Homo sapiens: one gene and its partners. The protein of the gene in region 1 interacts with the protein of each later gene in a biochemical or structural test. Each region holds a gene or a part of one and is shown in the gene's direction. Other genes may lie near its edges.

What was found.
Region 2: the proteins of GAK (region 1) and POLI form a complex in vitro, tested with the Homo sapiens proteins (one large-scale study listed by BioGRID).
Region 3: the proteins of GAK (region 1) and LRRK1 form a complex in vitro, tested with the Homo sapiens proteins (2 studies listed by BioGRID and IntAct, with this or other methods).

The regions. Positions count from the first base shown.
Region 1 is NC_000004.12:866,262-869,913, reverse strand, and holds part of GAK (cyclin-G-associated kinase), read left to right. Parts: intron 1-1,228; coding exon 1,229-1,375; intron 1,376-2,481; coding exon 2,482-2,958; intron 2,959-3,379; coding exon 3,380-3,550; intron 3,551-3,652. UniProt on the Homo sapiens protein: Associates with cyclin G and CDK5. Seems to act as an auxilin homolog that is involved in the uncoating of clathrin-coated vesicles by Hsc70 in non-neuronal cells. Expression oscillates slightly during the cell cycle, peaking at G1.
Region 2 is NC_000018.10:54,282,993-54,286,644, forward strand, and holds part of POLI (DNA polymerase iota isoform a (long)), read left to right. Parts: coding exon 1-23; intron 24-750; exon of another isoform or gene 751-823; intron 824-929; coding exon 930-1,021; intron 1,022-3,652. UniProt on the Homo sapiens protein: Error-prone DNA polymerase specifically involved in DNA repair. Plays an important role in translesion synthesis, where the normal high-fidelity DNA polymerases cannot proceed and DNA synthesis stalls. Favors Hoogsteen base-pairing in the active site.
Region 3 is NC_000015.10:100,922,207-100,925,858, forward strand, and holds part of LRRK1 (leucine-rich repeat serine/threonine-protein kinase 1), read left to right. Parts: intron 1-2,304; 5' UTR 2,305-2,426; coding exon 2,427-2,523; intron 2,524-3,652.

The DNA.
Region 1 (3,652 bases):
GTGTGTGCATGTGTGTGTACCGTGCATCTGTGTGCGTGCATTCATGTGTACCCTGCATCTATGTGTGCTGTGTGCATTCATGTGTACTGTGCCTGTGTGTGTGCATTTGTGTGTACCATGCATCTCTGCTGTGTGTGCATTCGTGTGTACTGTGCATCTGTGTGTACTGTGTGCATTCATGTGTACTGTGCATCTGTGTGTGCTGTGTGTGCATTCATGTGTACCCTGCATGTGTGTATGTGCTGTGTGTGCATTCGTGTGTACTGTGCATCTGTGTGTGTGCATTCATGTGTACCCTGCATGTGTGTATGTGCTGTGTGTGCATTCGTGTGTACTGTGCATCTGTGTGTGTGCATTCATGTGTACCCTGCATGTGTGTATGTGCTGTGTGTGCATTCGTGTGTACTGTGCATCTGTGTGTGTGCATTCCTGTGTACCATGCATCTGTGTGTGCTGTGTGTGCATTCCTGTGTACTGTGCATTTGTGCTGTGTGTGCATTCATGTGTACCGTGCATCTGTGTGTGCTTTGCATTCGTGTGTACCCTGCATGTGTGTATGTGCTGTGTGTGCATTCGTGTGTACTGTGCATCTGTGTGCTGTGTGTGCATTCATGTGTACTGTGCATCTGTGTGTGTGCTGTGTGTGCATTCATGTGTACCCTGCATCTGTGTGTGTGCTGTCTGTGCATCCGTGTGTACCATGCATCTGTGTGTGCATTCATGTGTACTGTGCATCTGTGTGTGCTGTGTGTATTCATGTGTACCCTGCATCTATGTGTGTGCTGTCTGTGCATTCGTGTATACTGTGCATCTGTGTGTGCTGTGTGTGCATTCGTGTGTACCCTGCATCTGTGTGTGTGCATTTGTGTGTACTGTGCGCCTGTGTGTGTGCTCTATGCATTCGTGTGTACCGTGCAGCTGTGTGTGTGCATTCATGTGTACCCTGCATATGTGTGGCGTTTGATGCCTCAGTGGTGGGTTCCTTGTGCGTGTTCATGTGTGCGTGTGCTGTGCCCAAGTGTGCACGCATGGCCCAGAGTGGCATCCGAGTGGATAGCAGGAATCTGTTCAGAGAGCCCCTCCCCGTCATGTCATTGGTCTGCTTTACCGATGGCCTGGCCTGCCACGGTGCTGGCGCCCGCCTGGCTGCACTTCCCAGCTCTGGGGTCAGTGTTGCCCCGAGGCTGCTGGCCAGTGCCAGTGCCCTGACGCCCTCCCTCTCCTGCAGGGAAGCCGGAGCTTCCCCGGCAGCCTGGCTCCACGGCTCAGTATGATGCTGGGGCAGGGTCCCCGGAAGCCGAACCCACAGACTCTGACTCACCGCCAAGCAGCAGCGCGGACGCCAGTCGCTTCCTGCACACGCTGGACTGGCAGGGTAGGCAGCGTCCCTGGACCTGGCCACTTGCAGAGGGCAGGCCCCTGGTCTGGAGGTGCCCCTGGGGCAGGGCAAGCGTCTTGGGAGACGGGCCTCCGGCAGAGCTGAGTTGCACCTCAGTGGGGCTGTGCACCCGGCATGTCAGCCTGTTCTTTAATGGCTCACGAGCTAAGAATGATTTCATATCTTTTTAAAGGTGAAAAAAAAAGAACATGCCCACAAAGTCTGAAATAACAACCCTCGCTCTTCATCCCAGTCTGTGGGCCTGGGGAGGCTGGCAGCATGGGCCATGCTGGCGGGGCCCCTGGGTACAGGGGAAGGGCCTGGGCGGAGGGACAGACTGTCACCACCTGGGGATCCCACACCTCTCTTTGCCCACACCCCCAGTGGGCTCCCAGCCCCTCTGAGGCTTTTCAGGAAAACACCTGGGCGCCATCACTGGACCTCACCCCAGACACACCCCAAGGGATGCACCTGCCACTTCCTGTCCCAGCACCCCTGGCCTTCCCATCGGGCTCGTCCCTTCTGCCGCCTGTTCCCAGAGCACCCTTGATTGGTGTTCCTACCCCCTAGTGCTGCCATGTGGCCCCCACTTGACTCAGCCTGAGGCACCGCAGAGGCCCAGGCGGAGAGAGCCACAGGCAGACCCTTGAGGCAGAGGCTGGAGGTGGGTGTGCTGGAGACGCCTCAGGAACAACACCCCACCGCCCGCCCAGAAGCTTCTGCAGCACTCGCCAGGGCCCTGGGCCAAGGAGGCGCTGAGGGGCCGTGCCATGGGGACATTGGTGCTGGCCATGTGGGTTCGCCAAGGCCCTGGGCTGAGGGGACGCGCCGTGGGGACCCTGGTGTTCCTGCAGCACTTGCCAAGGCCCTGGGCCGAGGAGGTGCCGAGGGGCCATGCCATGGGGACCCTGGTGCTGGCCACGTGTGTTCACCAAGGCCCTGGGCCGAGGAGGCCCTGAAGGGACGCGCCGTGGGGACCCTGGTGCTGGCCACGTGTGTTCACCAAGGCCCTGGGCCGAGGAGGCCCTGAAGGGACGCGCCGTGGGGACCCTGGTGCTGGCCGTGTGGTCTCACTAGCCTGTGGTTTTGTTTCCTTTTCGCAGAAGAGAAGGAGGCAGAGACTGGTGCAGAAAATGCCTCTTCCAAGGAGAGCGAGTCTGCCCTGATGGAGGACAGAGACGAGAGTGAGGTGTCAGATGAAGGGGGATCCCCGATCTCCAGCGAGGGCCAGGAACCCAGGGCCGACCCAGAGCCCCCCGGCCTGGCAGCAGGGCTGGTGCAGCAGGACTTGGTTTTTGAGGTGGAGACACCGGCTGTGCTGCCAGAGCCTGTGCCACAGGAAGACGGGGTCGACCTCCTGGGCCTGCACTCCGAGGTGGGCGCAGGGCCAGCTGTACCCCCGCAGGCCTGCAAGGCCCCCTCCAGCAACACCGACCTGCTCAGCTGCCTCCTTGGGCCCCCTGAGGCCGCCTCCCAGGGGCCCCCGGAGGATCTGCTCAGCGAGGACCCGCTGCTCCTGGCAAGCCCGGCCCCTCCCCTGAGCGTGCAGAGCACCCCAAGAGGAGGGCCCCCTGCCGCTGGTACGTGTTTCTGTTCTGAAGGCGAGTGGCTTCACAGTAGATGAGTGATGAGGCTGAGTCATTCTCACTGCATGGGCGTGTTTCGAAGGTGCTTGCAGGAAGGGAACGTGCCCTTCCCCCACCTCCCCCAGGAGCAGCCTCGGGGTCATGTCAGGGTTCTGTGCTGCCCACCTGAGCTCACGGGCCGGGAGCTACTGGCTTCTCCATCTCAGCAGTGTTGCTGTGTCCCTGGGAAAGTCATCCTGAGGCGTGGGGCACGGGGAGCCCCTGGGCTGACTGCCTCAGTGCCCCTGCGAGGGCAGCCGTGGGGTCTGGGCTGCCCAGCTGGAGTGGCCTCTTGGGCAGGCCTGACTCCAGAGCTGGGCTCCTTTGTCTTCAGGCAGCCGGGCTGAGTCCTCCCCATGCCCGCCTGTCCCCACAGCTGACCCCTTTGGCCCGCTTCTGCCGTCTTCAGGCAACAACTCCCAGCCCTGCTCCAATCCTGATCTCTTCGGCGAATTTCTCAATTCGGACTCTGTGACCGTCCCACCATCCTTCCCGTCTGCCCACAGTGCTCCGCCCCCATCCTGCAGCGCCGACTTCCTGCACCTGGGTAAGTGCCTCTCGCCTGGCAGCCAGCTCTCCATGGCCGCCTCCCTCAGGACCGCAGCCTCTGGTGGGAAACAGAGCTGTGGGTCTCAGGCAGTGGTGGGGC
Region 2 (3,652 bases), on another chromosome or scaffold:
TGATACTCTCAGGACCACCTCAGGTACATGATGATACTTATTTTAATTAAGTACTGGTTATCACATTATTTGAGATAAAGATTTCTAGTTTTAGTACCATGTTCTTACTATTCTAGTTTGCTTAGTATGTGATCCCTTTCCTATTAGAAGGCTGATTTATTATTAATAGATTGGATTAATAAGTATTCTTAAATGGAATCTTAAGCATTGATATTTTGATATCTTAAGTTAGCTACTATGATTGAAGACAGTGCAACTTAATTTTAATAGCCTATAATGCATATATGAGGCAAAATATTTTAATCTGTTAAAAATCTTGTTTTCAGAGTAGTCCAGTGATTTAGCAAATGGGAAAGGTATAATCACCCAGTTAACATTGACTGATTTTTTTGCTATGGGACAAGCACTTTACTGAGTGCTTTAAATATGTTAGTCCATTTAATCTTCACAACAAAGCATCAAGGTAGGTAGTACTGTTGTTTGTCCATTCCTTCTTACTTCTCTTCTTTCCTTCCTTCCTTCCATTCTCTCTCTCTCAAGATGAGGATACCGTACTTTAGAAAGGTTAAATAACTTGTCCAAGGATAAACTTAGATTCAAGTCCTAGGTGATTAAGAACTCTTGCCATAATCATACAATAAAGCTTGGAGTTGGTACTAGAGCTTTAGAGTTTTCATAACTTTGAATTATTTTATATTAACTGTTTTATATTAACTGTTAATACAGTAATATTTTATATTAACTTTCTAGTGAGTACAATAGCTTGCAGATAAAAAACTGTTAATATAAAAGTGAACTAAATGGCTCAAACTAAGGACAAGAGGTAAGTTAGTGAAGAATGTATTGAATATTTATTTGACTGTACACTGATAATAATTAGATATAGTTATTTGAGTTTGTGCTAATCCTTATTTATGCTTCTTTGATAGTCCTTTAGTGAAGAAGATTCATTTAAAAAATGTTCATCTGAAGTTGAAGCTAAAAATAAGATTGAAGAACTACTTGCTAGTCTTTTAAACAGGTGATTTTCAATCCATTTTGCCAAGTCATCCTATGTATTCATTCTATATACGGTATGTGGAAAGAATATTTGATGTTCCATCTTGGAACTGACAGATTATCTGGAGACTAAACAATGTAAAAATAATTTATCATGGGATTTCTCTGCTTTATAAACTGTTGTAAAGATGGTAATAGGGGGTCTTACCTAAATTGAATTCATTGGTCTTAATTCTGTTAACACTGTGGTTATGCTATGGATCTAAAGCTGCAGATAGTTACCTAAAGGGGTTTTATGGATATTTCTAACATTTCTAGACTTATTCTGGTCTTCAGGTGAGAAGAAGAAGTTTTAATTTTTCCCTGTGGCAATTGCAAAGCCTCTGCCCTCAACCTAATAGTTAGTTGCATTTCATTAAGTTAGTACCATGCTAAATACAAATACATGCGAAATACAAAACCCGTGAAATTAACCATTTATCTGTGCCTCTGCTAATAGTTACTTGCATTTCATTAAGAAGAAAAAAATGCAAAGAGGAATAATACTGTCATAATTCTAAAACTCCTGATACAGGAACAACTATATAAATTTGTGATTGTTGAGGATAGGAAATTATTAAAGTAACAGTGATGGAAGAAGCAGAAGAACCCTTGTATCTCTTTTGCCTCAGACTGTAAAATAAAATGGAGTCGAAGGAAAGAATGGCTAGCTGGCGCTGTGTGTGAGTAGGGTGAGTGACTGCAGGTGTGTGCAGGGTTTCTGATCTGTATGTAAAGAGTATCAACTGGGGTTATAAATATATGAGTAGTACAAGATAAACTGAAAAGGAAATTTAATTTTGTGGTGCTCCTTGTCATTATACATGTATTTCTCAATATTCCATATTCCACAGATGAGTATTATCTGTTTTCGTCCCATTTCTTTGTTTCTCCTCTTCTTGTTAGAAATTTCTCAAATTGTGGTTTCAGGGCTCTAACAGTTTAGAGTAGGTGTGCTTCTCTAATGATTCTAGGAGGACTAACTGTATTTAGAGAAAATGGTTTTTGGTTGGTTCTAAGTCTGAGAAAACTGAAGAAGTGAAATTTCCTCCAACTTTGCTGTCGTGTGCAATGTGGCACTCAAATGTCTTGAGCAGAGCCATGCAGCTCATTGTTGGCTGCATGCAGCTGGGGCTGGCTGTATGACTGGCCTCCCGTGATATGACTCAGGCTGGGCCTGCGAGTATGCTAGTGAAACTGGGTCATTTGCTTCAGCTAAATAGAAGACTACCCTGAAATGCCTAACCTTTGGAGACAGTTCTTCACATAGAAAAACCACAAGAAGTATAAGTTTTACAGGTTCTCTTATTTGAAGAGTCAACCCAGAAGTGAGACCAGGTGCTCTAAACCTGTGACATACAAAACCTGTGAAATTAACCATTTGTCTGTATCTCTGCTTCCCGGCTCCTTTTCTCCCACACCACGGGCCCTTATTTCAGTGACTGAATTATAACACCATCTAAGTGACTTGCAAAAAAAAAAATTACAGGAGTGTGTGTGTGTGTGTGTGTGTGTGTGTGTGTGTATTTGTGTATAATTAGTTTTGTTTTCTCTAGAGTATGTTATGATTAATACTATAGGTATGTAAGAAATGTAAAACCGTATTATTTTTAATCCATCCTCTAGGCACTAGTTTAAGATTGCTTACGATACAGCCTTTTTCTAATGTGTCTTAATTAGCATATCATACTCTTTGAATTGCATAATTAATATAACACGTTTAACTGGAAGATATTTAAACTAGTAACCATTTAAGGTATTTTATCCTAGTTAAGCAGCCATCGAGAAGTTTTGTCACAAAGCAGTAAGAGATAGAAAAAATTATTTACTACAGAACTATTTAATTTTTTATGTTTTTGCGATAGGGTCTTGCTCTGTCACCCAGGCTGGATGGCAGTAGTGCAGTTAGGGCTCACTGCAGCCTCAGCCTCCTGGGCTCAAGCAATCCTCCCACCTCAACCGCCAGAATAGCTGGGAAGGCACCTGCCATCAAGCCTAGCTAATTTTTAAATTTTTGTAGATGAGGTCTTGCTATGTTGCCCAGGCTGGTCTTGAACTCCTGGGCTCAAGTGATCCTCCCACCTCAACTTCCCAAAGTGTTGGGATTACAGGTACGAGGCACCGTGCCTGGCCCAGAACTATTTTTTTCAGATCAGAATCTTCAAGTTGAGTGTGTTTAACAATGTGCAATACTTGCATTTTATGTTTGAGATTTGGTTTTATATGCATTGCCATGTGTATAAAAAGGGAAATGTTATCCTTTAATGACATTTTTTCCAGTACTACTTAAGTGAATTTGTCATATCACTAAAACCTTTGTTTCAACACCAAAACCAAGACATTTGCATGAAACTCTTCTAAAAAATGCATGTACTCATATTGTATATTAATTATATACTAAATATAGTATATGCTCTTTTAAGATATTGCTCTAATAAGCTATCATATAATGGTAATAGTGATTACTCTTTAACAAAAGTAATGTCATTTTGTAAAAAAAAATCTTTTTTTTGGTAATCTCGTAAGAAAAAAGTTTGAAAAAAGTTCTTTTGTTATTTTTCACTTATTTGCTTTTGTCAGTGAATGATTCAGTTTCTTAAATTTCCTGCTGATT
Region 3 (3,652 bases), on another chromosome or scaffold:
CCCAAAAGAAGCAGGAGGAAGCAAAGATCCGTTTGAGGGCAAAGATTGAGCAAAATTTGAATTACCTCATCTTAAAACTTCTACCTTAGAATATAAGCCAAAATAGTAACTAGAATTTTAAAACTGCTCCAGGGGCAGAGTCTTCCACTGGTAAAGTGATTTTCAAAAGGAAACTGAAAATGAAAAGGGGAACAAAATGTGCTGGGTGAGGGTTAGCCTGAAATAATTTTAAGATTTTTTTTTTTTTAGAACTTAAAAACATTGTATGGTAAGACACTTCTGTTTTCAGGAAGAATGTCTAGCGTTTGGATTTTTGAAATGCTGTTGGTTATGTGCGGTAGCTGTTTTGGAGAGGTGTCTGAAAGCAGATGGCAACTGTGCTTCTCAGTTTCTGGATGTGAATGTGTGATCGGAACGTTTATTTTAAAACAGATTCTGTCTTGCTGGCTCTTCCTCTCTCTGTCACAAGTTGATTTTCCAAATCAGGTTTTGCTATTTATAAGGCTTTCATCATCCCCTAAATTTTGCCCAGATTGATCGTTTTTCCTTTCCTCCTTCGACTTTTCAGGCTTCCCAACTTCAAACACAGGTGTTTCCCACACGTGGTTTGTGTCGACCATCCCTTTTGCCTCTGAAACATGTGCAGCTTGCACAAGGCTGCTGGAGCCTGGCTTTTCTAGCTCCACCTTTCCCTGCCTTGACGAGTCCAGTCCACCTGGGCCAGGTGCCTGAGTTCTAGGCTTTTAGGTGAGAAATTCCCACAGCCTTGTCCTGTACCTTACTTCGTGCCCCTACTGCTCACGGCATCTTCTAGAACCTACCCGCTGGTGAGGCTGGCATCTGCCCTCCAGCATTGATATTCTGATCTTATTAATTAGCAGGGAAGTGGGAGACCCGCTGGCCTCCAAGTCTGTGCGCTGGTACTACAGGTAATGACCACCCCAGCCCTGTCGTAGAGAGAGGCTGCAGAAACTTCACTTTGGTTGAATTCACACAGTAACCCCACTAGCAGGCCCGGGCATAAGGGTGGATGTCTATTTTTAACAGGTGAAAACTGAGACACACATACCTTTCAGCTGGGAGTCACACTGCGAACATGTGACACAGGCAGTCCACACCTTTAACGTCCACGCTATGCTTTTGCCTGTACAGATTCTCTTAGGCATTATTTTTATATAACCTTGATTTAAAAAATATATTTTTGGCTGCACTATCACTCCCCATTTCAGAGTTGTCTATCTGAGAGAACACAGACAAGAGGTGCTAATTACCTCGTACTTCATCACATGTAGGATATGCTATAAGAACAAGGATAGGCGCACATGCATTACTTATGGTAGTACCTCATGTCAGGCCTGAGCTAGGCATGGGTCTTACCCTCCCTCTGGTCCTTCAATCACCATACCAGGATGGGCACTTATGCCCATGGGGGGACTCTAAGCTCAGTGGGGGCCCAGCATAGAAGAGCAGCACTTGGTCTCAGTTTATCATAGTCATTAGTTTCAGAGATTAGTCTAACTCCACCCTGGAACTTTTGGGGCCAGATAATTCTTTGTTGCAAATAGCAGTCCTGTACATTGTAGGATGTTTAGCAGCATCATTGACCTCTACCCATTAGAGGCCTGTAGCACTCTCCCCCAGCCAAGTTGTGGCAACCAAAAATGTCTCCAGACATTGCCAAATGTCCCCTGGGAAAGGGGCAGAATTTTTGAGGCTCATGTCTGCTAACCTCCGTCATTTAGCTTTCTGCTAAAGCTCATGCTAACTTGACTTCATAACCAGTAATAATTCCATGTCTTTGGAACTGTTGCCTGACCACCCCCTTGGGATGACGTGCTCACCTCTGGCTTCCAGAAGAACTGGCCCCGGGCAAAAGGAGAGCCTTGTATCGTGACTAACCTTAACTATGTCTGCCCTACCCCCACTGGAGTGTGCCCCTGAGGGCAAGAGCCTCCTTGAGCCATCTTGGTGCCACTGAGCCTCACACAGAGCCTGGCTACCTTGCATGTGACAGTAGGTGTGCGTTGACTGAACAATGATTGAAGCTGTTACCAGTATGTGTTTTCCAATTGTCTGGGGTTTGTTTGAGACTCTTCTCAGGTAGACAATACCTGAGCCCCGCATCAAGATGGGATGGGGGGAGCTGTGCCTTCCCACTGACCACACCTGATGGGTTTGGCTGGATAGATGGACTACAAAAAGGAATGTTGCAGAGGGAAAACTAAATGAACCCATGCAAATATTTGCAGGGGAGGAGGACAGGAATTATAAAGGCTTTCTGTTTTGATTGTTTTTCGCCACCAGAGCAAGAAAGCTTTCTGCTCAGCCATGGCTACGAGTCCACGCCTTAATGCACCCCACAGCCAGCGGCAGTGGCAGTGACAACAGCGGGACCTGCCTTTGAAGATCGGCTGCTGCAAGGGTTGATGGCTGGCATGTCGCAAAGACCCCCCAGCATGTACTGGTGTGTGGGGCCGGAGGAGTCAGCTGTGTGTCCAGAACGTGCCATGGAGACGCTTAACGGTAAGGACAGGGCTGTGCTTATGCCTGCCTGGGTGTGACCTGCCATGCTCATCCTGCAGGGTGTCTAGGCTATGTAAGAACAAGGAGTTCTCAACCAGTGGAAATCAAATGTCCATCATTTGGTGCTCTTTCATCATATAATATATCTTGGGACTCTTAAATTCTAAAAATTGAGGAACAGTGTACAAAATTTATTGTGGACTCACAGATCTTAACAATTGGGACATCACTTCATGCTGGGTTAAAGAACTTTTAAGAAAAAGGATGTAGTTTTGTTTTTTCATTATAAAAATAATACATGTTTATTAAGGAAAAATTGAAAAAAATAATTTAAAAAAAAGGAAGAAGGGAAAGGAATCATCCAGAATCCCGCTATCTCAAACACAAGTACAATGAGCATCTTGGCATGTTCTCTCCTAGTCTCTGCTTCTCTGTGTTTAGGGGACTTTGTTTTAACCTTATTGTACTTACAAGGTGTATGTAATGTTGCATGTTGCTTTTTTCTCTTCACCGTCCATCAGTGACATTTGCTTAGGGCACCACCTGGCTCCCGCAATCAAGTGAAACATCATTTCATTTATTTTATTTTATTTTTTTACGATTTAATAATTGGATCAAAAAATGATTCATAAATTGGGCAGTACTCCGAACCAAAACAAACATCATTATCTGCGGGAGTGCTATGTGCAGTTATTGACCTAATCCTTATTCTCCTGTGGGACATTTGGGTTGCTTCTAGTTGTTTACTCCTACTGAGAGCATTTCCTTCCCATCTCTTCATACCTGGTTTCAAGGTTATTTCTGTAATGCAGGTTTACAGAAGTTGAATGATTGGTCTTGAACATCGTTAAGCTCTTGGCACGTATTTTGCCAGATTTTCCGCTACACTTGCACCACCTTTAAGACCAATAGGATATCATCGTTTACAAATATTTGTCAATCCCTTAGTATGTACCAGGCACTACATGTACAAAGTTCAGAACTTTACGAAATAATGTCATAAAATCCTCACGACAACCTGGCACATGGTACTTTTATTTCCGTTTTATAGCTGAGGAACATGAGGGTAAGAGAAGCCTGGAAACGTGTTCAAGGTCAACAACTCAGAAATCACAGAATTGCCATCTGA